Linked DNA regions of Homo sapiens. The protein of the gene in region 1 interacts with the protein of each later gene in a biochemical or structural test. Each region holds a gene or a part of one and is shown on either strand. Other genes may lie near its edges. The genes, in order: METTL22 and KIN.

What was found.
Region 2: of the proteins of METTL22 (region 1) and KIN, one has a biochemical effect on the other in vitro, tested with the Homo sapiens proteins (2 studies listed by BioGRID).

Annotation. Positions count from the first base shown.
Region 1 is NC_000016.10:8,627,648-8,643,327, forward strand, and holds part of METTL22 (methyltransferase-like protein 22), read left to right. Parts: intron 1-1,082; coding exon 1,083-1,463; intron 1,464-7,391; coding exon 7,392-7,432; intron 7,433-7,520; coding exon 7,521-7,665; intron 7,666-11,443; coding exon 11,444-11,515; intron 11,516-11,715; coding exon of another isoform or gene 11,716-11,774; exon of another isoform or gene 11,775-12,029; intron 12,030-13,483; coding exon 13,484-13,537; intron 13,538-14,479; coding exon 14,480-14,560; intron 14,561-14,815; coding exon 14,816-14,918; intron 14,919-15,680. UniProt on the Homo sapiens protein: Protein N-lysine methyltransferase. Trimethylates KIN at Lys-135 (in vitro).
Region 2 is NC_000010.11:7,741,782-7,756,993, forward strand, and holds the end of KIN (DNA/RNA-binding protein KIN17), read right to left. Parts: exon of another isoform or gene 14,368-15,212; intron 14,362-14,367; coding exon 14,299-14,361; 3' UTR 9,181-14,298; downstream 1-9,180. Other genes in the region: ITIH2 (inter-alpha-trypsin inhibitor heavy chain H2 precursor), read left to right, coding at 1,365-1,478, 2,301-2,499, 3,010-3,182, 4,812-4,923, 7,406-7,553. UniProt on the Homo sapiens protein: Involved in DNA replication and the cellular response to DNA damage. May participate in DNA replication factories and create a bridge between DNA replication and repair mediated by high molecular weight complexes.

The DNA.
Region 1 (15,680 bases):
AGCCATGCCCAGTCATTAACGTGTTTTTACAGCTGTTTTTGTGCTATAACGGCAGAGTTGAGGAGTTGCAACAAAGATCACAGGGCCCACAAAGCTTGAAAATAGATACATTTTATGAGACAGGGTCTCATTCTGTCACCCAAGCTGGAGTGCGGTGGTGCAGTCTTGACTCACTACAGCCTCGACCTCCCCAGGCTCAGGTGATCCTCCCATCTCAGCCTCCCAAGTAGCTGGGACTATAGGCACATGCCACCATACCTGGATAATTTTTTTGTAGAGAAGGGGATTTACCATGTTGCCCAGGCTGGTCAAATTCCTGGGCTCAAGAAATCTTCCTGTCTTGGCCTCCCAAAGTGCTGGAATTACAGGTGTAAGCCACCATGCCCAGCCAAAAAACTTTTTTATCTAACCTGTTACAGGAAAAGTTTGCTCACCCCTGCCTTATGTGGTTGCCACATCTGTGTCACACAGAATGCAGTTTTACTATATTCCTGGTAATTAACACAGCCTGTAATTATCTTGTTTACTTGCTTAATGTTTCTTCCCCAACTTCACTCCTAAAATGTAAGGCCCTAACATACCAAATCCTGCTTTGTACCCCCAGCACCTGGCATGGTACTTGGCACACAGTGTTCGGTGATGAATGAATGGATGATCGGACAGATTCAAAAACTGGCATAAACCCGGGATGCTGTGTGAGCTTAGAGGAGAGGCCCCTGAGCTCATTCCTAAAAGTTGTGTGGCCTTGGTCAGCTTAGTCCTCTAAGCCTCAGTTTCTGGGTCTGTAAGATGAAGCTGATAATGGTATCTTCACAGCAATTGTGGAGATTGAATGAGCTGATATGAGCCAAGTGCCTCATAGATTCTCATGAAATGGCGGCTGCTCTTGGTGGTGGCCCCAGCCTCCTGGCTGGTGGTGGTCACAGCTGAATCAAGTGGGCCTTTTCTGCTGGCATTAGTATATCTCTACCTGGCCTTTAAAAATCTTTCCTATTGGTAATCAGATATTCTCAAAGAAGAAGAGGAAGGTAAAAAAGAAAACATCTTGGAATTCTCATTTTGCGTTCTGTCTTGCCTTTCAGTTTTCCTGTCCCAATTCAAGCTTCTATGGAGCCAAGACTCTTGGACAGATTCAGGAGCCAAGGGTGGCAGTCACAGAGATGTTCACACAAAGGAGCCTCCTTCTGCTGAGACAGGCAGCACAGGGTCCCCTCCAGGAAGTGGCCATGGTAATGAGGGTTTCTCCCTCCAGGCCGGGACTGACACCACTGGCCAGGAAGTGGCTGAAGCTCAGCTGGATGAGGATGGGGATTTGGACGTGGTGAGAAGACCACGAGCCGCCTCTGATTCCAACCCAGCAGGGCCTCTGAGAGACAAGGTACATCCCATGATTCTAGCACAGGAAGAAGACGACGTCCTGGGAGAGGAAGCACAAGGCAGCCCGCACGATATCATCAGAATAGGTAAATAGAGGTGTGATGTGGCCCACCTGTCACCAAGGCAACTCCGCAGTGTCACTGCTCAGGGCTCAGTATGATCTGAGCGTGGACTCTGCAGGCCCAGGCAGCACAGGTTATGAGAACCAGCTCGGGTGAGACTGGGGAAGCTCTCCACAACCCCGTCACTCCTGCCCGGCTCACACCACCACAGCCTCACCCTGTGCGCTTTCTTCTCTGTGCTGTGCCTCCTTGCTGGAGTGCTTGCTCCCAGCCTCTGCTCCCTTAACATGTTCCCCATTGCCGTACAGTTTCCAGCTCAGCCACACCTCCTCCAGGAAGCCTCCCTGCTGCTGCCTCCCACATCTGTGCTCTTGCTCTAACTCAGCGTGTTGGGGGTGTGGGACAGGCTTGGCCTGGCTGGGCTGGCAGTAGGGAGCCATGGGAGGTTCTGGAGCTGGAGTGTGGCAGAGGGAGAGGGATGTAAATGAAAATGAATGGGGCGTGGACCAGTCAGATGGACTGGGAGCTGGGAGCTAGAAGCCAGGTAAGAAAGGGGAGTGATGAAGTGGCGGGAAAAGTGGGACAGGAGAGAGGTTTGGACAGATACTCAGAGGTGGGATCAAAGAGGAACTGCTACCCAGGTATGGGGGCAGAGCAGAGGGGTTTGCTGACTCTAGGATTTGAAATCTAGGGACCTGGCACTCTAGAAACACCGGGAGCAGTAGGGAGCTGGGCCAGGAAGTGATCGGTCCTGGTTAAGCACCTATCGTGTTTTGGATATCTTCACTAGTATCGAGTGGCCTAGTCTGCACAACCCCTCCTGAGGGGGTGCATGGATGAGGAAGTGAAAGGCCTAGCGCCATGCTGCTTGGTGGTGGTGAGCGAGCTTCGAATCCACACAGTGTCCACACCAGGGCTTTGCCTCCCCCTGGCGCTGCTCATTTGGGGAGCGGAGCTGTGATTTGAGGCCGTTCATTGAGATCCAGGGTCCCCGATGGTGTCTTGAGTTCCCAGGGAAAGGCCTCCCCCAGCACTGGCCTTTGGTCAGAGAATGGGGGTCAGTGGGTCACTCTCAAAAACAGACAAAACAGCAGCTCTGTATCTATCTGCTCAGCAAACAGTTACTAAGCGCCTCCACGGTGGTACCAAGCAGCCTCTGTTCTAGACTGTCCCAGAGAGGGCAACGTGGAACTCATACCAGAACCCAGTTCCATGTATCCCATGGGTGACCTCTGCCCTCATGGCCTCTGCAGATAGGGATGAGTATTCCCATTTCACAGAGGAAGAGACTGAGGCTCAGCGAGGTTGAGGAACTTGCTGGGGTCACACAGCTAGTCAGTGGCAGAGCTGAGACTTGTACCTAGGTCTGTCTGACGCCACAGCCTGTGCTGTCATTCCACATCATGGGGGCAGAGCTTTCGAAAGAGGCTTGGAAAGTCCTGCTTCTCAGGGGGGCCGACGATGGCTCATTTCCCTCTGAGCCCTCACTGTTATTAGCCTCCCCAAGCTGGGGAGCAAACCTGTCAGTTACTCCACAGTGAATTGTTGTGTCTGTAGTGAATGTTCTGGGAATTTACCATTGTATGAGCTAAGAACAAAGTCCCTCGGGAAGAGGCTGGCCTGTGACCAGCTTCCCCTCCTGCCCTGTTCCGGTGACCTCACGGTGAGGCCCCCTTGTCTGTATACCTGGAAGTTCACTTTTTCAGCTGTCAGTCACTCACTACCTGCCCTGACGGAGGAGAGTGGAATGGTAGCTAATGCATGAACCTAGGTAGTAATTCGTGATTATTTCAAACTGGCTAGAGCACTTTCATCTGCAAAACTTGATCTAATCCTGCAGGGCTGGATTTTGAGCCCAGCTCCATCTTCACAAGCCAGGTGACCAGAGACAAATGTCTTACCCACTCAGAACCACATGGTCAGAACCACGTGATCAGGGGAACCACTGTCCCTGGGTTTTAGTGATAATTTATTGAAACATGCCCAGTGAGCGCCAGGAGCAGGGCCTGGCGCAGAGTTGATGGTAAGCAGACGTCATTCGCCTCACAACCCTTTTCCTCTGACCCGTAAATCAACCCATTTTTTTCAAGTTATAGACCCATTTGAGAAACTGGTTTTTCTAAAGAAAAAGAAAAATAGGTGTTTTCTTAACTATTCCAAGGGATTGACAAAACCTTAAAAAGTTTATCCAGGGATCTGCCAGGAATCCACAGACCCAGGATTCAAAAGAAATTATGTTCAATTCCCCCACTGTAGAAATAAAGTGAGACCCCAAGAGAACTCGAGAAAGGCAGGGCTGGAACTCAGGCCGTCAGATTCTGAGTCCCGTGCCTTCCTGCTGGAGAATCGGGCAAGTCGCTTAGCCTCTCTGAGTTCAGTTTCCTTGTCTGTACAAGGGGTACAACCTCCTCCAGTTGTAAGGAATTCAGAGAGACAGCACATACAAAGCTCTTAGCGTAATGCCTGGCACGGATTCAGTGTTCCGTAAATGTAAGCCTCTGTCCTGGGGACTGGCCCAAGCTGGGAGGAGGGAGACTGGCTGACGAACAGTCTAGGTTCCTGCAGGTCTAGAGACCCAGTTTGCAAATGAGATAAGACGTAATTCTAGAATCTGATAAGGACAGGTGAGATTCTAACACTGTCTCATCCCATTGCTAGCCCTAGAGTTTCTCATGGGGATAGTTCCTCAGGCTGGTCTTTTATGTTCTCATGATACCTTTGGGATTATTTAAATATAAACTCTGACTTTTCACAGGAGTGGGAGCCCCAAGATGGCCCTGGGTAGGGAGGTCCCTAAGTCACCTGGGCCTCCACCCCTAGACTGAATCCTTCTTCCTCACCCCTATGCAGCCACCTGGACCGCGCCCGGCCCAGGGCTGACATACTGGGCATTTGTTGTGATCTCTGACTATCCTGATGAGTCATGAAGAAGCATATTTACCCATTCGAACACTAGCAAGTGCCTGAAACGGGGCAGGGGTCGGGTAGACCTCGGAATCTCTGCACTCCGGAGTCGAGGATGTCAGACACAAGAAAGGAGAGTGCCCTTAAGGTCGGCCACACTCAGCTTCCTGGGGAATTCATTCTGGCTTTTTCCATCTGGCCCCAGGGAGTTGCACAGCATCCGCTTCTTCCTTTGATCCATCCCTGAGCCTCTTGTTCTCTCCCTTATCAATTCGCCCTGGTGTTTTCTCGTGTTATCAGCATCAGCAGAAAGCACATCTTAGATCAGTTCTTGGTCAGACTCCCAAATGACTTCATTTTAAATCCTCTTTTGTTTCTATTTGGCTTTAGAAAAATATGGGTCTCACTTTGCACTTCGTTACCCAGGCTGGTCTCAAACTCCTGGCTTCAGGCGATCCTCCTGCTTTAGCCTTCCAAAGTGCTGGGATTATAGGTGTGAGCCACTACCCGGCCATCTCGACACATTTTGATCTAATTAGATGTTTTTTTCTCAGACTATGACCCTGGGCTGGTCATGTCCCCCTTCTGGGCTTCAGTGATCTCCACCTGTGCAAGGGCTGGGGTCCTTGACCACCTCAATGGTTCTCAGATGTCTGCCGAGCCTGTGCTCTCTCAGAAGCGCTGTCTGGTTAAACACTGTTACAGCCTTAGAAATGAGGGATGAGGCTACTTCTGCATTTTGCAAAAGAGGAAACTGTAGCTCTGTCTCCAAGAAGTTAAGTGACTTGTCACCCAGCTAGGAAATGACAAAACTGGGTTGTCATACAGGTCTCTGACCTCAGAGTCCTCATTCTCCCTCAAGGGAAGCTAGCCACCCATTGAGGACAGCTGGGAGGCAGAACTTACGTCCACGAGACCCCTGGAAGGAAGTGACCAATCACATAGGACCAAGATCACTATGAGAAGGTTCCCCTGGCAGCAGGAACCCTTAGGACAGCTGGGGTTAGGGAGCAGATGGCAAGGAGGAAGCTTTCCCAGGCCAATGGAGGGAGAGGAGAGGAGAGGAGGCTACGAGCCACACCCAGGAGATGGCATGGGTGGGACTGGGGAAGAGGAACTGGGCAGGGACGCTGACACAGAGGGCCTGGGGTCTGTAGACCACAGACACCCCTTCCCCTCCACGCACAAGCACACAAGCCTTCAGCCTGCCCAGCGAGTCCCTGTCCCTTTCATCCTGGGAGGCTCTGCCCCAGGCTTTTTAAACCGTGTCCCTGGCATGGTTCAGATTCTACATCTCCCTTCCCCAAGCAGGCTGAAGAGCTAGAAAAGGCCGGGCACGGTGGCTCACACCTATGATCCCACTTTGGGAGGCCAAAGCAGTGTATCACTTGAGCCCAAGGGTTTGAAACCAGCCCTGGCAACATGCTGAGACCCTATCTCTACAAAAACTACAAAACTAAAAAAATTTAGCCTGGCATGGAGGCATGCACCTGTAGCCCCAGCTACTCGAGAGGCTTAGGTGGCAGGGTCACTTGAGCCTGGGAGGTGGAGGCTGCAGTGAGCCTTGGCCGTGCCACCACACTCCAGCGTAGATGACAGAGTGAGACCCTGTCTCAAAACAGAAAGAGACAGAAAACTGCAGATGACCTGACTTGGAACCCCGCATCTGCCACTCACCCTCTCTGTGACCACAGCCTGCTAACCTCACCCAGCCACCTTTTCCTCATCCAATAATACTCGAAGCTGTCATTGGGTGATTTTGAGGATTAAATGAGAAAGCATTTAGCCCAGTGCCTCATGCAGAGAAGGTGCTTTTTTTTCTATTAACTTTACAAACAGTAATGCTGAACCTTAGTCAGTGTCTTTCTCTGTAATATACATGTGAGCCAATCAGGTAGAATCTCAGTGGCACCCAGGGCTTGCTCACAGAATGTGTCTGTCTAGTGAATGTTGGTTCAGTGAAGGAACTTTGCATCAGGTGGTTCGGCAGGTGTATTTCTGTTCCAGTTTCAAACCAGGTGACTACGTGTTAGGACGTAGCAATCTGAAGCCCTTCTGAAAGGAACATGTTTTATTAAAAGTGCCTTGTAAGCCACCATGTCAAATCTAGCCAAGATGCTGGTGGACAACCCATTAGTCACTTTATTCAGAGATCAGATTCTAACTGCCCATAGGGCTGAAATCTTTGGCCAGATTTTCCCAGGAGGAGCCCTCAGAGAACAGTGGCCCAGGTGCCCAAGAGGACCCTACACAGTCGATTTCTTTCCTGGTTCGGGGACAGACAGAGCGATTGGCGATAGCTGTTACCATCTCACTTAAAAATACTTGAGCAAGTTATTTTCCCTCCTCGGGAGCTCTTAGACAAGCAAGTTCTTACTTAACAACAAAAAATGCTTTGCTTCATTCCTTTTCTCCTTGATCTTATATTTCCATTGTGTTCCCCCCTCCACCAGAATTTGATCCTATTAGGGTATATTATAAATACAAAATATATTATATTTTGCACTTGAGAATACTTATACTACTTTTCAACGTTTTTAAAAAGGATGTAAATTTAAACTTATTTTTTTGTTAACTTCTAATGTAGATTTCTAAGTATGAGAAAATAATGAAGTTAAGTATGTTTCTCAGTATAAGAAAATACTTTTGAATGAATTGTGATTATTAGTAGTATATAAATTAATATATTATGATTGTAACTTTGCAATTATTGGTCATGAAAAAAGTAGTGCACTGCATGTGGGTGCAATTAAATTGCGTGAAAACCTAATTGTGACCCTCCCTAGCCTTGGGCTGTAGGGCAGAGATACCCAGTTACATGAAAGAGTGTGAGCCCCATTCCAAAAAGCTCCCATCCTCTGAGTGGTGCTCAAAAGTCGCCTCCTAACCAGTAGCACAGCCTGTGTTTCTGCTGCTCTCTAGAACGCCTCATTCCAACCTCTGACGCCCATCTGACCGTGCTGGCGGTTGCCACACTGTCCTGTCTTGTGGTTTTCTGTCCATCCCCATTTCACAGTGGGCATTTCTCTTGGTTTCTGTCCCATCCAGAGCACACCATGGCCACGCCCCTGGAGGATGTTGGCAAGCAGGTGGGTAGGTCTTGTCCGCTTCCTGTGGCCCTGATGGGTCCCTGCAGAGCCTCACGCTGCTTGTCGCTCCTTGTCCTCTTCCCTCCAGGTGTGGCGGGGCGCCCTGCTCCTGGCAGACTACATCCTGTTCCGACAGGACCTCTTCCGAGGATGTACAGCGCTGGAGCTCGGGGCCGGCACGGGGCTCGCTAGCATCATCGCAGCCACCATGGCACGGACCGTTTATTGTACAGGTAATGAGGTGACATCTCAGGCTGCAGGGAAGTAGTCACCTTCACAAAGCATGCACTGACTGTATAAAAAAAGAGGCAGAGGCACTGGAAATTGGATGTTAGCTGTTGTTGATTTTGCCATCCTGGTCCCCTGGCCCTCTCCACTCTCCATTTATTCTCAGTGACATCAAAATGACCCAGCAATACCCACTCAGCAGCAGCAGCGTCACCCAGTGGCTATAAGGCCATTGAGCTTCAGGAGGTGCCTAGCGCCCCTGCTGGTACCTCTCTCCCCACTCCTGAGAAAGAGCAAATATCTCCAAAAACAGGAGGAATATACCCTTTTAGAAGCCTTTGAAAGCAAGTTTATTATTTTTTTCCTGGGTATAGAAGCCTTGCCCATTCTTTGTAGGAGGTTTTTAAAACAGTACATAAAAATTACTCATAATTTTACAATCCCTAGATTGAATCAACAATATGCAACTTATGGGTCACCTCCCGTGTGCCACTCATTTCTAGATGTAGGAGGCCCTGCGGTGAATGGAGCTGACTAGGCACTGCCCTCAGGGCGCTTACGTTGTAAGAATCTCCTCCAAATGATAGCTGAAATCAAGCTGCAGCAGCACTGTATTCTGCTGAAAATGTTGAAAAACATTTTTAAGAGCATTTTCTTTTTTAAATATGTATATATTTAGGGGGTACAAGTGCGGGTTTCTGATGTGCAGCTATATTGCAGTGATGACATCCGTCTGGGCTTTTAGTGGACCTTCCACTCAAATAGTGAACATTGTACCCAATAGGGAAGCTTTAATCCCCCACCCCTCCCACCGTGTCACCTTCTGGAATCCCCAGTGTCTGTGTTTCCACTCAGTATGTCCATGTTTACCCGTTGTTTAGCTCCCACTCATAAGTGAGAACATTTTAAGAGCATTTTCTCATGCCATTAAAAAATTATTATATAGGCCAGGTGCGGTGGCTGACATCTGTAATCCCAGCCCTTTGGGAGGCTGAGGCAGGCAGATCACCTGAGGTCAGGAGTTTGAGAACAGCCAGGCCAACATGGTGAAACCCTGTCTGTACTAAAAATACAAGAATTAACCAGATGTGGTAGCGGCGGGCACCTGTAATCCCAGCTACTTGGGAGGCTTGAACCTGGGAGGCAGAGGTTGCAGTGAGCTGAGATTGCACCACTGCACTCCAGTCTGGGCCACAGAGTGAGACTCTGTCTCAAAAAAAAAAAAAAAAAAACAAACTTTATATATGACTTTTAATGACCAGATAATATTTCATCTTCTTTGTAACCCTTCTCCTATTGCTGAGCATTTTGGCCATTCCTATGGGTTTTGGTTTTTTGGTTTTTGTTTTTTTTTGCATTTGTCAGTTACACTGTGATGAACATCTTTGTATATTGTCTAATAATCTGTCACCTAGGTTCCTAGGAGTGGGCGGTGTTAGTTACATTGCAATGAACATCTTTGTGTATCGTTGTCTAATAACGTGTCACTAGGTTCCTAGAAGTGGGTGAGACTATTCTTAAGCTTTTGATGAACATTACCAACTAATTTCTTTTTTAGTATTTAATTTTGAAATAATTTCAGACTCAAAAGGAGTTGTTAAAATAATCCAGCAAGTGCCATATGCCCTTCCTCTGGCTCCCCAGTGGTGACATCACACACAACCATAGTACAGTGATGAAAACCAGCCAGTGAAGTTAACTAAACTCCTAACGTGCCAGAGTGCTTTCTTTAGAACAAATATACCTGTTTACAAGAGAGTAGTGATCTCGTCAAGTGAACCTTGTTGTTATATTTTAAATCTTTAGTATCTGCTGGACAAAAAGAGGTATCAGCTGATGTGGTTTACACCTCATTGCTTCCTAGTGAACGTTACCTGGCACAGACTTTTGTTTCTGAGATAGGAAGGAAGAAGCTAGAGATCACCAGTCCCTGAGGCACTGTTTTCAAATATGCTGTTAACCACTGGTCAGGAGTCTGCAGTGCAGCCACGCTATTGGCTGCTTCTTGACAATGTCATGTAAATTATCAGTGAGCTCTTCTCAGAGTCAAGCCGTCCAAGAGCTTTGCTTCGTCCCTGGTGCCTAATAGCAGACTATAAAGAAGTCTTATCCCTGAGAGAGATTTACCAGCATGGGGAAGAAAGCTTGCATTTAGATGCCATGTTCCAGTTGGAAAAGTCCTTTCAGATGCATCAGTGCCTGGCTGTAACTTCACAGTGACTCTGGGCAGAGCCCAGGGTTCCTATCTCTGTTGTCCAAATGGGCAGACTGAGGCTGGCCCAAGGTCATCCACAGCTGCTGATGAGACCCGAGGCCCTTGATGTGGACCTGCTGGCCCACAGGGCAGTGTGCTTGTCACGTGGTGGAATTTCAGATTGTGTTGCATGGAACAGAGCTCCCACAAGCTGGCCGAGGGATGCTGGGGAGAACGCACTCAGGGCACCAGGGCTCCTACCCCACTCAGCCAGAGCTGCTCCTCTCTTACCTGTTTTATAGGTTAAAAGCTTTTGACAGAAACTATCATAAAGGTTTAAAAACTGCTGACCCTGGCCAGGCGTGGTGGCTAATGCATGTAACCCCAGCACTTTGAGAGGCCGAGGCAGGTGGATCACCTGAGGTCAGGAGTTTGAGAGCAGCTTGGCCAACACGGTGAAACCCCATCTGTACTAAAAATACAAAAAAAAAAAAAATTAGCCAGGCATGGTGGCGTGTGCCTATAATCCCAGCTACTTGGGAGGCTGAGGCAGGAGAATTGCTTGAACCTGGGAAGTGGAGGTTGCAGTGAGCCAAGGTTGCACCACTGTACTTCAGTTGGTCAACAAGTGCGAAACTCCGTTTCCAAAAAACTGCTAAGCCCATCGTGTGCTGTCAGGTACATATCATCAGTATTCTCTTGGCCTAGGAGATAGGGTAGATCCCTCCCTTCTGCAAGCAGGGAGCTCCTCCCGTACATGGCTCTGTGTGACCCCTGGGGTGCAGATGTTAGTCCCAGGGAGATTGCACTGTGGGTCCACGCCCACAGTGGACCAAGCAAATGTCATTAACAAGACATCCTGTACTTTCTACATGCACATTCTTCTAATTAGAAGTTTATTTTTGGTAAAGCACTGCTTCTGCCAGTGAGGATTCACTGTACCCCAAGTTAGTTCTTGAAATGATGAGAAATCCCACTTGTCAGAGTAGCAGGCGGCTGGGAGGGAGATCTGGGTGGCAGCAAAGTGAATCGCGCTCAAGAGAGTGGGCTCAGCCTGTTTGAATCTGCTCTGTGTTCTGACGAATCATAAGAAAAAATCCTTCTGACCGGAAAACTGGTCCAGTCAGTTTTCCTAGGGTGTCAAAGAACGAGCCTAAATTTGGAGTTAGAAAAACCTGGATCAAATCCCAACTCTTGCTCTCAATAGCTGCATGACTTTGCTCAAGTCACTTAATCCGTGAAATGGGATTCATGATCCCAGCTCCTGTGTGGCCATAAACATGAAAACGATGAACTAGGGAAGTGCACGCGTGTTGCATGTGCTCGGATGATGTTGGGAGCTCACACTCCTTCCCTCTGGAATGCGCACTGTCTCTCCCCATCAGGAGGAGAATCTCTTATTTAGGGAACAAGCCAATGAAAAGAGCCTTAAGGTGAGGGTATTTAATTTTGGCAGTAAGACACATAGGAGAAACGTTTCTCTAATTTCTGCAGTTGTGCTGTTGATCACAGCTCTCTCTAGGCAAAAAACATGGAGATAAAAGTGTCGTAGTGGCTGGCACTTTATGGCTTGCCCTCTGTCATTCCAGATGTCGGTGCAGATCTCTTGTCCATGTGCCAGCGAAACATTGCCCTCAACAGCCACCTGGCTGCCACTGGAGGTGAGGCCCAGGGGGTCTTCTGCCAGGGAGGGAGGTTTCTCTGTTTAGCAGATAGGACAGACACCCAAGACCATGACATTGGGAGGCAGGGCTCCGTCTGTGTCCCTTGCAGCAGGTGAGTAAGGGGAGCAGGCGTCGTCTGGGCATCACAGAGCTTCAGAGCATTGAGGACGCTCCTTGGGTCACCTCCTCATTCCCAGATCCACTGCGTCATCCTACTCCAGCTCTTTCTCTCCCGGACACTGGCGGCGGCCCCTGAGCTGGTCTCCCCAGCTCCTTAGTTGACCCGTCCAAGATGTCCTCATGAAACATCCAGAGTGCCCTTTCTCAGATGCAAGCCAGTCCACTTCACTTGCTGCTGAAAACCTCCCAGGGGCGTCATCACCTGTGGGGTGAAGTCTGAGCTCCTTGAATTCCCAGGCCTCCCTGGCCCAGCCCCGGCCTGCTCTCCTTGCCTCCTCCTGACAGTCTCCTTTCCAGCCCTGCATCCAGCACGGCCAGGACTCACTCACAGGCCAGTCCCCCTGCGCAGATGGGCCTCCGCCTCCATCTGCCTGGTTCTCTGCTCCCTGCACGGCCTGCAGGGATGAGTGTATGTGATGGGTGACGACAGTTATGTCCTAACGCCTCCTCCGAGCAGCCCCCCAGGCTTCAGGCCCTTCAGTGGTTTACTGTTGCTTGTCTCATGTTCTTGGGGATCTGGCCCCTGTCTGTCTGCAGCGCCCCCCACCACCAACAGCCGACCTCACCGTCTTTCAAATCACATTCCCTCGAGTCCTTTGCCCTTGCTCTTCCCTCTGCCTGAGTGCTCTGCCGTCCCTCCTCCCGGCAAGTCCTCATCACCCTCGGGGCTTCAGACCTCCAGATTTGAGGCCAGAGCCCCCAACAGACTCCAGGCACACGTTGCATGATTGCATTTTACCATCTGCTCGTGTGACTAGTTATTGGTGTTTTCCATTCCCACCGGACTACAAGCTCTGTGGGTGCAGGTACCCTGTCTGCATTTGCTCTGCACTGTCACAATGTTTGTTGAGTGCTCAGGGTACAGTAGGCAGTCAGCAGAGCTGGGAGGATGGAGGGAGCATGCTGGTGGAAGCCTTCCCTGACATCCGCTGTCTGACATGAGTTCCTCTCTCTCCTCCTGTGCGTTTGCCTCATCCTTCTGGCATCACCCAGCCACACAGTCTTGCCGTTGTTGGTTAACCTGCCAGTCTCTCCTAGGGGAGCTGGTCTGCAAGGATGGGGAGCATGACTCTTAAATCTTTATTTTCCCTATGTCTGGCACCGTCCCTGACACGTAGCACTCAAAAAATGCTGGAAGAATGGACGGATGGATGGAGGGAAGGGACAGAAAATGGATGATGGATGAGGAGGGAAGGAGGATAATAAGGATGGGTGGGTGGATGGGTGGGAGGGCAGAAGGATGGATAGATGGGTAGATGAGAGGATGGATGGATGGATGGATGGAAAGATGGGTGGATGGGAGGGAGGGAGGGAAGGAAGATGGGTGGGTGGATGGATGGATGGATAGATGGAAGGGCAGGAAGATGGGTGGGGGGGTGGGTGGATGGATGGATGGATCGATGGATGGCTAGAAGGAAGGATGAGAAGATGGATGGGAGGGAGGCAGGGAGGGAAGGAAGATAGGTGGGTGGGTGGGTGGGTAGATGGATGGATGGATGGATGGATAGAAGGAAGGGCCGGAAGATGGGCAGGTGGGTGGGTGGGTGAATGGATGGATGGATGGATGGATGGATGGATGGATGGATGGATGGATGGATGGGTGGGTGGATGGCTGGCTGGCTGGCTGGCTGGCTGGCTGTAAAGATGGAAGGGCAGGAAGGTGGATGGGTGAGAGCAAGGGTGGGTGGGTGGATAGATGGATCTTCATATATAGTGTAAAAGTTTATCTTTTTTTCCTGATGATGTTTAGAGTTTGGAAAGTTCTCTTTTTGTTTGTTTTTACAGGTGGTATAGTTAGGGTCAAAGAACTGGACTGGCTGAAGGACGACCTCTGCACAGGTGTGTGTTTCTCTCGGACGTCCCCCAGTATGATTCAGTGATTCCTTTGTAATACCTCAGTGCCCCTGGCTCTGTGGTTTTGACAGAGCTGTAGTCCCAGCTGCTGCCACAGTCCCATCGGCGCATGGCAGCTTCTCTCCATTGGCCGATGAGCACCAGCTGTCATTCTCTGAGCGCCTGCTGCATGCTGGGCACCTCACGTTCATTTTCTTCTCCAGGTGTTGTGGTTTCCCTGTGTGGTAGCATGATAATCCCTGAATTGTGAGTGCAGACTGCCCATGGGCACAGCTGGTACACAGCAGGGTAGGGGCATAGACCCGAGTTTGTCAGACTCTGGGGCACAGACCATTTCCCAACAAACAGTGGTGCCAGGAAACCCCCCGGGTAGGACAGTTTCCATATTTCTTACACAGACTACTTCAGACCTGGGTGCTTGCTCTTTCTTTGTATAAAGATGTCTTTTTTTTTTTCCCTGTCAGATGGCAGATGGGAAAAGTCGTTCCTTGAGTACTGGTCACCTGCCTAGCACTTTGCGCACCGTAGGCCCTTCGGCCCTCCCAATAGTCCTGTGAGGAAGTAGTACTGTGCCCTTTCTGTGAGTGCAAAACTGAGGCTGTTTTCCTGGGCCACCCAGCAGGCAGAAGGGGGAGATCATGTCCTGCACTGGGCCACAGGCCAAGGCAGCGGGTGAGGCTGAAATCCGCCCGCTGCTCACTGGCTAGAGCAGACACTCAGCAGAAAAGGCACCTCTTCCACCATGACTCTGCACCCGGGCAGCAGTGGGCCTGAAGCAGGGAGTCTGGTCTGCCTGGTGGTGCCCACTGCACCGAGCTACCCCCAGCCCTGTTTCTTCTCTTGAAGTGCCTTTTGGTCAGTCCCAGTGAGAGTTGGTGGCCAGGAGAGAAGGCAATGGGCACAAAGTGTGCTTTTGTTCTTTCTTAGATCCCAAGGTCCCCTTCAGTTGGTCACAAGAGGAAATTTCTGACTTGTACGATCACACCACCATCCTGTTTGCAGCCGAAGGTAAGAAAATTTCTCCTTCGCCGTACACGTCCTTTGTTGTAGCATGAAGTCAAGTGCAGTCTCTCCTCACTTCCCCCGGGAGTTCAGTTTTAGAAGTGACTTTCTGGTACATGCCACCACATCTGCAGTTTTAATTCTGGAAGCTGCTGCTGTTCCGTGGTGATAAGCATTCTCTCTGTGCGGATTGCTCTGAAAAGTCGATTTCTGTAATATTTGCGTGTTTTCCTCTAATGCTGGCCTTTTTGCTTCCCACAGTGTTTTACGACGACGACTTGACTGATGCTGTGTTTAAAACGCTCTCCCGACTCGCCCACAGATTGAAAAATGCCTGCACAGCCATACTGTCGGTGGAGAAGAGGTGAGCTTTGCGCCACGGGAACCGTGCTGACGTCCCGAGTGTCAGCGGAACTCTCACCTCCTAATTGTGTCCTTGTCAGTGTCATTATGATTGTTACTCAGTGCCACTTATTGAGCACCTACTATGTGCCAGGTCTGTGCTCATCCTTTGTGTACGTTACTGCACTGAATCTGCATCCTAGCCCTGTGTGCAGGCGCTGCTGTCCCACTTGACTGATGAAGAGAGGAAGGCTGGGAAGCATCAGGGGCCTTGGCCAGGGCACGGCTAGTTAGTGATAGACAAGGACTTGAATGCAGACTGTACTGGAACCTCAACGCTTGGCCAGCACACACTGTTGAGAGCTTCTCTTCCTGAATGTTCTCTCTGTGGTGCCGTCTGTCTCTTCAGCTCCCCCAGGTCTCTTTCTCTTGCTGAATCGGACAGCTCCTCACCCAACAGCCTCACCCAGACATTTCCACTAGAATATCCTGAAATGTTAGGTTCCATTTATTGAGTGCCCACCTTGTGATAGCTACACACATTCTCCTGTAATACTTAACAGTAGTCCACAGCTTTTCTGAAGATCGTTCGGAATCCACAGCAAAAGCTGTAAAACGAAACAGACTTCTTCACCCAGCAATTCAGCATCTGGAAATTCACACTCAGGGTTGTGTACAAAGCTGTATGTACTTGCATATTTATTGCAGTGTTACTTATACCAATAATACCGAGGGCTTGCTTTGAGGCACACACTGAGCAATAGCAATGTACAGACCTCATTTG
Region 2 (15,212 bases), on another chromosome or scaffold:
CTTTTTCTCTGCATTCTTCAAGAACCTGTCCTCTGGTCGCATTGAGTTATTTTCTAAAGAAATCATAAACTCTTCTACCTCCACTCCTTCCTCATTCTGTACACTCAGAATAAAATCTCTTCCTCCTTAGCCTTTTGTCTTTCCCCGCTGTCCTCTGACCTTAAAGACAGTTCAGAAGCCACCTCCTCCATTCAGCCTTGCTGTTTGCCTGGGGGGCACTAATCATTTTCATCTTCATTCTCACAGCATTTTACTTGAGCCACTATTGCACCATGTACTTCATTCTATCTTACATTCGTGATTATGTCTGCCCCTTGCACTAAAGTATTACTTTCTTGAAGTTACTGACCATGACTTATGTTTATAGTTAACACCAAACATTGCCAAATTTAGTGATTGCACATAGATTTTTTTTTTCCTTCACCAAGTATTTGTTGAATGGTTAAATGGGAAAGAGCGGGAGAGGGAGAGTGGGGATGGGGGAGCGGGAGGGGAGGGGAAGCAAGGAAGGATTATCTAAAATAATTAGGTTCAATAACAAAGGAGTACTTTCTTGGGAGTAGCTTGATTCTTCATTGCTTTTGGAATTGAATCATATTAATCTGTATGTCAACAATAATAGTGTGTCTCCTTTGTTTTCCTGCATTGTATATGGCTCCTTAAAAAATATATCTCCAGGCTGGGTGAGGCGGCTCACACCTTTAATCCCAGGACTTTGAGAGGCTGAGATGGGTGGATCACTTGAGTTCAGGAGTTTGACACTAGCCTGGGAAACAAAGTGAGACCCCCCATCTCTACAAAAAATACAAAACATTAGCTAGACATGGTGGCACATGGATGTTGCCCCAGCTACTCAGGAGGCTGAGCTGGGAGGATGACTTGAGCCTTGGAGGTCAAGGCTGCAGTGAGCCATGATTGCAACATTGCACTCCAGCCTGGGTGACAGAGGGAGATCCTGTCTCAAAAAACACCCAACTCTATTTTTCTGTCTACACACATATTCACACACGTGTATGTATGTTTCTTATATTTGTGGGTGCATATTTGTGTGTATTTCTTATTCCTTAAGTCTTTCTTATTCATTTTTTATCTCTAGTATCTAGTCTAGTGCATACATTTTTAGCTACAAAATAAATATCCACTATATTTGTAAAATAACATAGGGTTCTGAAGAAGGCTCCGTGACAAAGGGACAATGGAGTATGAACCACTGGGTCCCCAAGACCTGGAGGAGTACCGAGCATGTAGGAGAAGCACAATAAATATTTGTTCTGATTAAATTAAAGATGTTCAGGAATGACATAGTGCTCAAAATCATCTTCCTTTTAATGATTTTGTTTACGTTTTCTTTGTATATTTTCCAGTTGAAAATGACCCACATTTCATCATTTATCTACCAAAAAGCCAAAAGAACATTTGTTTCAATATTGACTCAGAACCTGGAAAAATCCTCAACCTGGTTTCTGACCCAGAATCAGGTAAAATAAAAATAAATTATATTTGCACCAATTAGGTCATTGTCATGCTTTCCTGTCACTGCCTGGGATTTCTTTCTTTCTCAGCTTAATAGAAGTTCTATATATTTCAGTGATATTAGTGAGAAATTAAATTATAAATATATTCTTAACTATTTTGAACCATTATAGTTCAAAATATATACTCTGAGTATGAACTTGCAGATCTTGTTGTGATATAATTAATTTAAATATGAGCCAGGAACGGTGGCTTACACATGCAATCCCAGCACTTTGGGAGGCCGAGGTGGGCGGATCATCTGAGGTCAAGAGTTCGAGACCAGCCTGGTCAAAATGATGAAACCCCACCCCCCACTACTAAAAATACAAAAACAATTACCCAGGCGTGGTGGTACACACCTGTAATCCCAGCTACTCAGGAGGCTGAGGCAGGAGAATTGCTTGAACCCGGGAGGTGGAGGTTGCAGTGAGCCAAGATCACACCATTGCGCTCCAGCCTGAGTGACAGAGTAAGACTCCGTCTCAAAAACAACAACAAAAAATTTAAATACTATATGATAGTCAATTATTTAAATTTTATAAACTGACAATTAAATTTTATAACTGATATAAAATTATTAAATTAAATTTTATTAAAATTTATAAATGTTATATTAACATGTTATAAAATGAGAATCACAAAGAAGAAAATGTTAATGTAAATCTTGAAGCAAAATTATAATAATTTTCCAATATTGCCAAGTTTTTATAAATTTGAATTATAGTACCCACACATGCAAAATAAATGGCACAGAAGAGAAAACATCATTTTTTTCTTTCCTGTAGGAATTGTAGTCAACGGTCAGCTTGTTGGTGCCAAGAAGCCCAACAATGGAAAACTAAGCACCTATTTTGGAAAACTGGGATTTTATTTCCAAAGTGAAGACATAAAAATAGAAATCAGCACTGAGACCATCACCCTGAGCCATGGTTCTAGCACATTCTCCTTGTCCTGGTCCGACACGGCTCAAGTCACGAATCAGAGGCAAGTATGATTCCATCTGAACTTGGGCCTGTCCGTGACACACGACTGCATAAATAAATCCAGGCATCAGTGACATCAACATTGAAAAAAAATCATCATTTTAAATATAAGGAAGTTGAGGTTCAGAAAAATTGTTCTCACTCCCTACTCTGTTCCTGGCAGTGGGCACTGTGTGTTTTTGGTCACCGTTGGGTCCCAGGACCTAGTCCAGTGCCTGGCATCAGTAAACACTCACTGTGTATGTGCTAATCAGTGAACAAATCCACCAGCTGAAATCCATACTGACTCTATCGCAGAGTGAGCTCCAAACGCCATGATTGTGTCCTCTGCGTAGAAGCTTCCCAATGAGTTTCTGTTAATCCATCATTTATCTATAAACTGTTGCAAGCGCTTAGATAACTAGCGGAATTGTCTGGGAGGAGTGAAGAGTTCATATTAGGGGTGAGAAGAATGACTTTCTCAAAAGGTCTGTTCTGGAATGGTTTAATTCCTCTTGGACTTTCACACCAGGGTGCAGATCTCAGTGAAGAAAGAAAAAGTGGTAACTATCACCCTGGATAAAGAGATGTCCTTTTCTGTTTTACTTCATCGTGTTTGGAAGAAGCATCCCGTCAATGTTGACTTTCTGGGAATCTACATACCCCCTACAAACAAGTTCTCACCTAAAGCCCACGGACTAATAGGTAAAGTGTCTATTGACCATCTGACAAGGGTGGGGCCGCTCTAATTCTTTAGCAGCTTTGGTTGACAGTGGTTACAAGTTGAGGACATGGCAGGTGTGGACTCATGAGCACAGAGGACTAACATAGCAGTGTGGGGTCGCTCGGGAATGTGACAGCCAGGACCTTTTGCCATTCCAGACAAGGTTGTCCAGGGCCAGGATTTCAGCATCACAAACTGGGCAAGTTAAGAGAAGGGACAGATACATTTTAAGTTTTATGTTAAAGATTTTTTTCTAACTGAAGCAAGATGAACCCATTTAGGAGGTCTGTGATAACAAGCAGAACACTCTGGACAAATGTCCCTAGTATTTTAAGAAGGGCTCAAATATAAAGCCTGTGACATCACAAACAAAACTTTTTCCTGTGATCTGAGCTATACTCTCAGGTGCTCACCTCATTCTCCTGCCATCAGGGTGCTCGATTTACTTACAATCCACTAGACCAACCTCATGTATAAAATGACCATGAGCTCCAGGCATGGTGGCTCGTGCCTGTAATCCCAGCACTTTAGGAGGCCTGGGCAGGTGGATTTGCTTGTGGAGTTCAAGGGCAGCCTGGGCACCCCATCTCTACCAAAAAATTAGAAAATAAAAATAATTAGCAGGGTATGGTGGAGCCTGCCTGGAGTCCCAGCTACTCAGGAAGCTGAGGTGGGATCTCTTGAGCCCCGGAATTGGAGGCTGCAGTGAGCTATGACTGTGCCACTGTGCTCCAGCCTGGGTGACAGAGGGAGACTCCATCTCTTAAATTAATTAATTCATTAATTTATGAGATGGAGTTTCTCTCTTGTTGCCCAGGCTGGAGCGCAGTGGCGCAATCTCGGCTCACCGCAACCGCTGCCTCCCCGGTTCATGCGATTCTCTTCCCTCAGCCTCCCGAGTAGCTGGGATTACAGGCATGCACCACCACGCCCAGCTAATTTTGTATTTTTAGTAGAGATGGGGTTTCTCCATGTTGGTCAGGCTGGTCTCAAACTCCCAACCTCAGGTGATCTGCCCACCTCGGCCTCCCAAAGTGCTGGGATTACAGGTGTGAGCCACCACACCCGGCCCCAAATCTTAAATTTAAAAAAAAAAAAAAAAAAAAAAAAAAAAAAAAGGCTGTGAGTAGTGGCTCACACCTGTAATCCCAGCACTTTGGGAGGCTGAGGTGGGTGGATCGCTTGAGTCCAGGAGTTCAAGATCAACCTGTGCAACACGGTGAAACCCTGTCTCTACAAAAAATTAGCCAGGCGTAGTGGCTCACGCCTGTGGTCCCAGCTACTTGGGAGGCTGAGGTGGGAAGAACACTTGAGCCCAGGAGGTGGAGGTTGCAGTGAGCCGAGATAGCACCACTGCACTCCAGCCTGGGCAACAGAGGGAGATCCTGCCTCAAATTAAAAAAATAAAAATAAAAAAAAGATGGTGAGCAGCACAAATGTGCTCCCAGGAAGGACCCTCCCTCCCATCACCACTCCTTTTTCCTCTCAGCTTGTCTTTCCACCCTAGAAATCCTGGAGGGAGGACCGAAAGGTAGCATGGAGTCAATAATGAGCCTCTTTTTATTTAACTATGATTACATGTCAATCAATGTCTGATTCTGTTTTGCTAGGCCAGTTCATGCAGGAACCAAAGATACACATCTTCAATGAGAGACCAGGAAAGGACCCTGAGAAGCCAGAGGCCAGCATGGAAGTGAAGGGGCAGAAGCTGATCATCACCAGGTAGGCCTCGGGCGTAAGGACAGTGACGAAAAGGCCTTGTGTTAGAATTAGACCCACACAGCAAAATAGAGGAGCAAAGAAGAAGTGTCGTAGGCACTACCTACATCACACTAAGCAGTTCATTAGGAATAGACGCACACAGCATTCGCATAAGGACACTTCTGATATCCCACGTTAAATGCAAATAATGACTGGGTATCTAGGGTCATGCAATGCCAAGATTAACTAACCTGTTGTTCTCATCTTCATACTTTAGAAGCCCTCACAAGAGCTTCACAAGTTGGATAACCAGACACGTTGATCAAAGGAGAGAATCATAAAACACCTATTACCATAGTGCTGCAGAATGAATGTAGATTTTTACATCAGGCTAGAGTTTTCCTTTTGCACAGGGATCTCTGACTGCTTTTTTTGTAGCTTTTCTTACACAAACCACCCCCATATGCTTCATCTGAAGTGAGAACTTAGACGCTCATAACGCATTCTGAGTGTAAAAGTCTTACAAATCTTGATATTTTTTCCCAGTCCTTTACAGTTGTCTCACCCATGCCAAATTTGATACCGTTTTAAAGCAGCTTACCCCTTTTTAGAGTTTTTACAAAGCAGCCAACTTTGCTTTATTAGAAAGGATTCTTCACGCCCACAAATGTCATTGGCTTTGACATACTTAATTAAACCATAACATTGTAACATAAAATTGTAGTCGGAAGTATTGCCACGAAAGTAGATTTGTGAACTGAAACAATGGATTCTTAGTGAATATGCCATTCAATTAGTATCAGTTTATGGGAGGAATGAGGTACCGACGGGAATCAGTGAGCATGTGTCACAGAAGCAATGGTGAGCACAAATTATTAATGTTAATAGTAAGTTATCTGAAGTTGGTAGAAGGGCATTTACTGCCAGGCATGGTGGCTCATGCCTGTAATCCCAATGCTTTGAGAGGCCAATGTGGGAGGATCACCTGAGACCAGGAGTTCAAGACCAGCCTGGGCAACATAGTAAGACTCCATCTCTACAAAAATAAAAATAAATATAAAAATAATTATCCAGGTGTAGTAGATTCTGCCTATAGCCCCAGCTACTCAGGAGGCTGAGGTGGGAGGATCCGTTGAACCCAGGAGTTCGAGGATGAAGTGACTTATGATTGTGCCTCTGCACTCCAGCTTGGGTAACAGAGAGAGACCTGTCTCATAAATAAATACATAATATATAAATAGGCCAGGCGCAGTGGCTCACGCCTGTAATCCCAGCACTTTGCAAGGCCTGGGTGGGTGGATAACCTGAGGTCAGGAGTTCAAGACCAACTTGCCAACATGTTGAAACCCCCCCCATCTCTACTAAAAATACAAAAATTAGCCGGGTGTGGTGGCGGGCGCCTGTATTCCCAGCTACTCGGGAGGCTGAGGTAGGATAATCACTTGAACCCGGAAGGCAGAGGTTGCAGTGAGCAGAGATAGCACCACTGCACTCCAGCCTGACTCCATCTCATAAAATATGTATATATATTTATATATACATATATAAATAAATATATGTATACATATATATATATATTTACTATAATGACAAAAAGTAAATGCTGGGCCTCGATTTGGTCCACTGCAAGCACCTCATGGTTCATAACTGAAACTGAGCTGTCCCGTGGGCTGGGCACAGTGATACTTTTAAGTCTCGTTCACGCAGTGTGAACGAGATCCTTAACAAATTGTTGGCTACTTTGCCCTTCAAGTGGAGGACATGAATCTGCTCAGAAACAGCAGGTATCACTCTTAAACACAGAGAAAGTGCAGTTAAGAGGTGCCGCCAATGCATTCTTTTTTTTTTTTTTTTTTTTTTTTTTTTTTTTTTTTTAGTGACAGAGTCTTGCTCTGTCGCCCAGGCTGGAGTGCAGTGACGTATCTTGGGCTCACTGCAACCTCCACCTCCTGGGTTCAAGCAATTCTCTTGCCTCAGCCTCCCAAGTAGCTGGGACTACAGGCGTACACCACCATGCCCAGGTAATTTTTCTTTTAATTTTTAGTAGAGACAGGGTTTCACCATGTTGGCCAGGCTGGTCTTGAACTCCTGGCCTCAAGTGGTCCGCCCACCTCAGCCTCCCAAAGCGCTGAGATTACAGGCGTGAGCCACCATGCCTGGCTGCTGACTCATTCTTTAAGTGACCTGTGAGGTCAGCCTCAACACTGTGGAGTCTTGTTCCTGCCTTCTTTCCATTGGCTACTGTTTCCCTCGCTGGAAAAGCCCATATAGGTCAACTCTAAGGGTTCTTTGAGTTCTCCAAGGACGCTTCGCTGATTCTCTGTGCTTCCAACACCAAGCCCCAGACTTGGTGTTTCTTTTTCACATGACTTGGGGAGCAGCGATAGGTGGGGGGCGGCAGATGTGGTGACAGAAGGAACACGAAGAACAGCAAGGAAAAGAGGGAGTCTTGTGTCTAGAGGTGCTCAGTCTCCCCCTAACCACATGCCTTGCTTCCTTGCAGGGGCTTACAGAAAGACTACAGAACGGATCTAGTGTTTGGAACGGACGTTACCTGCTGGTTTGTGCACAACAGTGGAAAAGGATTCATTGACGGGCATTACAAGGATTACTTCGTGCCTCAGCTCTACAGCTTTCTCAAACGGCCTTAAAGGTTTATAGTTTGGGAAATTATATATATTAATATACATCTTTCCCCTGTCACTTTTGCAGATATTCTTCGGTTTGAATAATTAAAATGAACCAGATATCAGGGTGGTTAATTAAAATGAACCAGATATCAGGGTGGTTTATAAAGCCTGTAAACACACCTAAGAAAATAAACATTTTACAAATGAGCTTTTAGGATTTTGTTGCATTTTTAGATGCCGAAGTGTGTGGATCAAGGTGGTGCCGAGACAAGCCAGCGTCTGGAAGAGCCTTAAATTTGGTGTTTACTGTGATCATTTATTAATATCTTTTCTTTCTTTTTTTTGAGACAGGGTCTCGCTCTGTTGCCCAGGTTGGAGTGCAGTGGCGTGATCATGGCTCACTTCAGCCTCAAGCTGGGCACAAGCAATCCACCCACTTCAACCTCCCTAGCAGCTGGGACTACAGTCGCATGTCACTATGCCTGGCTAATTTTTGTTTTTTGCAGAGATGAGGTCTCACTATGGTGCCCAGGCTGGTCTCAAACTCCTGGGCTCAAGTGATTCTCCCGCCTCAGCCGTCCAAAGTGCTGGGATTACAGGTGTGAGCCACCATGCCCAGCTGATCATTTCACTGCTGTTGAGTCTCAGGTCCTCAACCTTGCAGATCGCGTCCATTTTTACACTGCTAGTTACATGGGAAGTACAATTATGAGAGGGTTATATGGTGAGCATAGAACAAGAAATGGGGGTTACTTGATCTTAGGTGCTTCGTAGAGATTTATACTAAAGCCCTGTTACCCTCTGTAGAGATTTATACTAAAGCAAGGATAGCCTTGCTATGGTGCCTGTGATAGCCCAGTATTTTTAGCCAAGATTCTCTTCATAGTGTTGGTCCCTGGGTCCCTTTTGAGTTTATGAGGCCTGGATTAGCCATAGTTCTCCAGGAAAACAGAACCCATAGGAGATTTACAATAAGGATTGGCTCATGTGATTATGGAGGCTTGTAAATCCAAAATCTGCAGAGTAGGCTGATGGTACAGGAGAACTAGGGAGGAGCCAGTGTTCCAGCTCAAAAGCCATCAGGCAGGAAGAGCTGATGCTGCAGATGAAGTTCGAAGGCCGTACACTAGAGAATCCCCCGACTTTGGGAAGTCAGCATTTTTGTTCTATTCAGGCCTTTGACTATTAGACGAGGCCCACCCACACAAGGGAGGGTGATTTGCTTTACTTTTTTTTTTTTCTTGAGATGGGGTCTCCCTTTGTTGCCCAGGCTGGAGCACAGTGGCACAATCTCGGCTCACTGCAACCTCCACCTCCCGGGTTCAAGCGATCCTCCTGCCTCAGCCTCCCAAGTAGCTGGGATTACAGGCGTGAGCCACCATGCCCAGCCCTACTTGGAGTTTTTGTTGCTCCCAAATTCTGCACATATTTAAAATCGCTCAGGATGTTACCTCAGATGGCTAATTATACACATTGTTAATGTTGCTAAATGAATTCTGAATCATAGTTCCAAATTCTCTGGAAGCCCTCTGTGTCTGTGAATCAAGTTTCACACAAATTTAATATACCTTGAACACAGCATCTTTTTTAGTACTCCTGGTAGAACTGTTATTTCATTTGCATTTAAACCATTTCTGAGTAATACCACTTACATGCTAAATCTTAGACTTTATTTCAAAATAAAGTAGTAAATTATGTTCTAACAAAAGACCAATGACATTTATAAGGGAGAATAAAATAAGCAACAAATTTAAAGCGAAACTAGGTTACTTTATGCTGTCTGCATTTGTATAGTGGATTTTGGTGCTAAGATGCAAGTCTGAACCAGTGTAATTCTGTGCTTTGCTGTGTTTACAACTTTCCTTAAAAAATCAATTCCTAAAATGAACGTATTTTCAAAAGTCAAATTGGTGAACTTGCACTTTAAAAAAGCTTTTTAAAGGCACATTTTTATGAATCTTCCTTTCCATAATCTGGTAAAAATCATTTTTCATTGTAGAGGCAAAACTCTTTTTTTGGACATATCCAACCCATATTTGAAAAAGCAAGTGAGCTCCTCTAAACCTAATTGCAAAATCTTAAGGAAATCTGATTGTTTCTAGAAGCTAAAGATTACTGGCTGGGTGTGGTGCCTCATGCCTATAATCCCAGCACTCTCGGAGGCCAAGGCAGGAGCATCACTGGAGGCCAGGAGTTCAAGACCAGCCTAAGCAACACAGTGAGACTCCCATCTCTTTATAGAAATAAATAAAAATAAAGATAAACTTAGTGCTGAAGAGGTAAATAGCACTACCTCTTAGTTTTCTTCTTCTATAAGAAGTGCTCACCTATGATACCCTTTTGAAAAACCTACTGCATCTTTTCCATTTCCTATTTCAAAAATAGAAAAATATTAAATATTAGAATGCTAATATTCAACATAAACTTCAAAAGTGAGATTTTAGCATTAACTCTGTTATTTGGTTAAAATCTTGAATTTAAAACTTCTACCTGCAGATATTAAGTTTAGCTTTTAGTATTTTATGTGTGCACAGTGGTCTTAAAAGTAACGATGTACTAAAAATACAAAAAATTAGCCGGGCGCGGTGGCGGGCGCCTGTAGTCCCAGCTACTCGGGAGGCTGAGGCAGGAGAATGGCGTGAACCCGGGAAGCGGAGCTTGCAGTGAGCCGAGATTGCGCCACTGCAGTCCGCAGTCCGGCCTGGGCGACAGAGCGAGACTCCGTCTCAAAAAAAAAAAAAAAAAAAAAAAAAAAAAAAAAAAAAAGTAACGATGAAAATCTTGGGGTGTTAAAAAAGAATAGCTTAAAACAAAATGAGAAGACAGGCCACTGACTGAGAGAAAATACTTGCAAAAGACACATTCGATAAAGAACACAACTGAAATATACAAACAACTCTTAAAATTCAACAATAAGAAAATGAGTAACCCAATTAAATAATGGGCAAAAAACCTGAAAGACATCTCACCAGAGAAGATATACAGGTGGCAAATAAGCCCATGAAAAGATGCTCCACATCATACTTCATCAAAGAAATGCAAATTAAAGCAATGACAAGATCCCACTGTACAGCTATTAAGATGGCCAAAATCCAGAACACTGACAACATCAAATGCTGACGGAGATGCAGAGCAGCAGGAACTCTCATTCACTGCTCGTTTGAATACAAAATGGTACAGTCACTCTGGAAGACAGGTTGGTAGTTTCTCAGAAGACTCCTGGCATATGATCCAGCAATTGTGCTCTTTGGTCGTTACGTAAATAAGTTGAAAACGTCTATCCACAAAAAACCTGCGCACAGATGTTTGTAGCAGCTTTACTCATAATTTCCAAACCTTGTAAGCAACCAAGATATCCTTCAGTAGGTGAGTGCATAAACTGTGGTGCATTCAGACAATAGAATATGCAGTGCTAAAATGAAGTGCGCTATCGAGCCACAAAAACCTAACCAAAACAACATGGAGGAACCTTACATGCATATGTTCTACCAGGTGAAAGAAGCCAATCTGAAAAAGCTACACCCTGTGTGACTCCAACTATATGACCTTCGATGGAGACAAAACTAGGGAGACAGTAAAAAGATCAGCGGTCAGCAGGGATTTGGGGGGAGACAGGGAACAGACAGAACACAGGAAACTTCTAGGGCAGTGAAACTGTTCTGTGTGATACTACAGTGGCAGATGCATGTCATTATACATTTGTCAAAACCCACAGAGACTGCTCTAAAAAGTAAAGTCTATGTTTGAAATAAAGAAAAATAGCTTATGATACTTCAAAAATCAAAGTCTAATATGAGACCTGTTGTTAGTTATCTGCAGTCATTTTGCTTAGCATAAACTCTATCAAGTTCTACAGACTCAGAGGGAAAAAACTACTGTGAAGTCTATAATCGTATTTTTATGCTTCAGATATTTTTTATTGAATTTAACCTCAAGTATGCTGCCTCATTTCATTCTGAAATAATTTCAGAAAGACGTTGGAGAATTAAATGTGGGAGGCAGACATGAAACATTTTTTCTCTGAAGAAAACCACCAAGTTGATTCCAAACGTACATACTTGGGGGAGGCATATGTAATTTGTCTGGTTTTACTCATCACTATTTGTTATCAGGGAGAACCATTCTCCTTTTTGAAATTCTTCAGACCAGATTCTTAGTAGTCCAGGCTCAACTTCTTGGCTTCATTTCTGGACATGACCACTCACTGCCATTTATTCAATACCTACTATGTGCTGGACTTCATGTCTGATGATTTATATGTATTTTCTGTAGGTCTCCCATCAACCCTGCTGAAAAACATTTTGACAATTTATACATTAAAAACATTGCAATTCAAGAACATTAACATTCTAATATTACAAAGCCAATGAACAGAACTGCCAGAATTTGATCTAAAGACTGCCCACACCCAAAACCCAGTTGCTTTCCATAATGTGCTGTCAGGTTACTTTGGAAAAACCTTAATTCATCCCTGAGGAACATTTTCTGTAAAGCTTCTGCCATCATCCTATTAGTATTTCTTTACTGCCTCTTACATTTCTGCTAACAGCATACGTTCTCCCATCTTCTGAGAATAGAAGCAATCAGCCCTCCCTGACTCTCAGTTAAAGAGAGAGATCCCAGGGTTTGGCACCATACCTGTGTCTGACGTCAGCTTATACCCATCCTCATGTTTGAAGTGATCATCCTGGTATGGTCTGTTTTTTGTTTGAACTCTTGTAGAAGATCAACTCAGGCAAGGCGTGGTAGCTCACACCTGTAATCACAACATTTTAGAAGGCCGAGGCAGGAGGATTGCTTGAGCTCAAGAGTTTGAGACCAGCCTGGGCAACATAGCAAGACCTCATCTCTACTAAAAATCAAAAAAATTAGCCAGGCATGGTAGTGCATGCCTGTAGTCCCAGCTACTCGGGAGGCTGAGGTGGGAGAATCAATGACCTAAGCCCAGGAGGACGAGGCTGCAGTGAGCCATGATTGTGCCACTGCACTCCAGGCTGGATGACAGAGCAAGACCCTATCTCAAAAAACAGAACAAAAAAAAAGAGGCGTAGTGGCTCATGCCTGTAATCCCAGCACTTTGGGAGGCTGAGGCGGGCAGATCATAAGGTCAAGAGATCGAGACCATCCTGGCCAACATGGTGAAACCTCATCTCTTCTAAAATTACAAAAATTAGCTGGGCGTGGTGGCGCATGCCTGTAGTCCCAGCTACTCAGGAGGCTGAGGCAGGAGAATGGCTTGAACCCGGGAGGTGGAGGTTGCAGTGAGCCGAGATTGCACTACTGCAATCAGCCTGGGTGACAGAGTGAGACTCTGTGTCAGAAAAAAAAAAAAAAAGAAAAAGAAAAGATAGATCATCTCTCTCTTCCCGGTGCTGCTGAAGGGTAAGATGTAAACCTAGAGTGCTCAAGAATGTAAATGTAGAGAGCCAGCACAGGAGCCAGAGACAGAGCGGAAGCCCAGGGAAGGCTGTTCACACCCGGTCCCGCTGCCCTGGAAGCTAGCGTCTGCTCCTTTCAGTCATGTGCACTACAAATATCCCTTCGTTTTTCCTTTGGCACAGGCAAATGTGGGTTTCCTGTCTTTTGCATTCCCTAATAATACACTGCCCTACTTATTTCAAACTGTATGGTTAGGCAGGGTGCTGTGGCTCACACCTGCAATCCTAGCACTTTGGGAGGCTGAGGCAGGAGGATCACTTGAGCCCAGGAGTTTGACAGCAGCCTGGGCAACACAGTGAGACCATGTCTCTAAAAGTAAAAAAATTAAAAACAAATAAAACTATAGTTCAACATTGCTGGTAGGACTGTAAAATGGTATAGCTGCTCTGGAAGAGTTTGGCAGAAGCGAAAGCTTCTGTTCACATAAAATCCTGTAAATGGGTGATCATGGCAGCATTATTCACAATAGCCAAAAAGTAGAAACAATCTAAATGTTTATCAGCTGATGAATGGACAAACAAAATACGGTACATCCATACAGTGGAATATTAAGCAGCCATAAAAACAAATGAAGCACGCCTACATGCTACTGCATGGATAAACCTTGAAAACATGATGCTAAGTGTAAGAAGCCAGTCATAAAAGATCACATATTATATGATTCCATTTATAAGAAATGTCCAGAAAGGGCAAATCCATAGAGACAGAAAGTACATTAGTGGCTGTCTAGGGCTAGGGCAGAGGGGAAAAATAGCGATTGACTATTAAAGGGTTTCATTTTGGGGTATGAAAGTGTTTTAAAATCAGACAGTGGTGATGGCTGCACAATTCTGCAAAAATACTAAAAACCACTGAATTGTATGTATATTTTAAATGAGTGAACTGTATGGTATATGAATTATTACCACAATAAAGCTGCTTCTATATTTATAGTTTGACATTTAAAATTTAGTCACACTTAGAGTTCAACTTTACTACTCTACTACTGAAAATATAGAGTGTATGAAGGATTTCCTCCAATTACATGATTCTAAATTGTCATAGATAAAACACTTTATAATAACATTCTTTAATGAAGATATAAACTCATCAAGTAAATTACAAAGGAAACAAAAATAACAAGGACAAAATTACATAGTTTGATACCTCATGAGACATAATTAAATTCTTCTCAAAGTTTAGCTGAACAACTATACAGTAATATTTTCAAAAACCTGTTTGTTTTATACAAAAGAATATACCCTAACACAGTAGAGTCTCATAATGCCTTGGCGAACACCAATTTGATGCTTTAAGATTTTAATGTATTGTTAACAAATTTTCAAACTCAGGCAAGTTTAGAAATGTCTTCATATTGAATTCCTTCAACTCTGCGTCCTTTTAAAGGGCCCTACAAATTAAAATAATTTAAAATAAGGTTAAAAACACATATTCCTAAAAGACAAAAAAATGACACCATACTTATGGATACAAATTTGCCTTTTCCGCATCCCTAAAATACCATTAAGATTGTTAACATTTGTATACATCTATGAATTTTAAGAATAATCTATGGCATTCTCATTAAGAACTACCATATTTTCTTCTGTGACATCTGACATACGTTATCAATAGACATTGTGGCAGAGACCTGCAAGCTGTTCAGTATCTCCTCTGCTTCCTGGATAAATAGCCAGTTTCCTGGCTCCCTTGTGGTTAGCTGTGGCCATGCATGGAGCTCCAGCCCATGAAAGCAAACAGAAGTGACGGTCCAGACGTGCTATAACTGACACACAATCTGCCAAGCTCCTTTTGCCTGCCCAGTGCACACAGACATGGCAACTGGAGATGCCACTTGAGGGCAGTAGAGGCACTAGCTGGAAGGACCCTGGGTTCACAAATCGCCACTTAGAAAGAGTTCCCTGATCAAAAATACCCATTTGGGGTTTTTAGAGTGAAACGTTAACTTCTACCATGTTTGTGCCATTGTCCATTTGGGGTTTTCTTTTTTTTATAGGAAATATCATTTTGTAAGCATTACGATACTCAAACATGTTTGTCTAGGTTGGCTGTGATAGTTACACTGGTCCAGATTATAAAAAGAGTCCAACTTTAACTTTATTTTCTTCTTTCATATCGAACAAAAAGGGAAAGAGGAAAACTTAATTAATGAAAGATATTTTCTATCACAAAAGCGGATATAACCTGGGAACACAGAGGCTAAGAATATGGGCTGTGAACCTACACTCCCCAAGTTCAAAT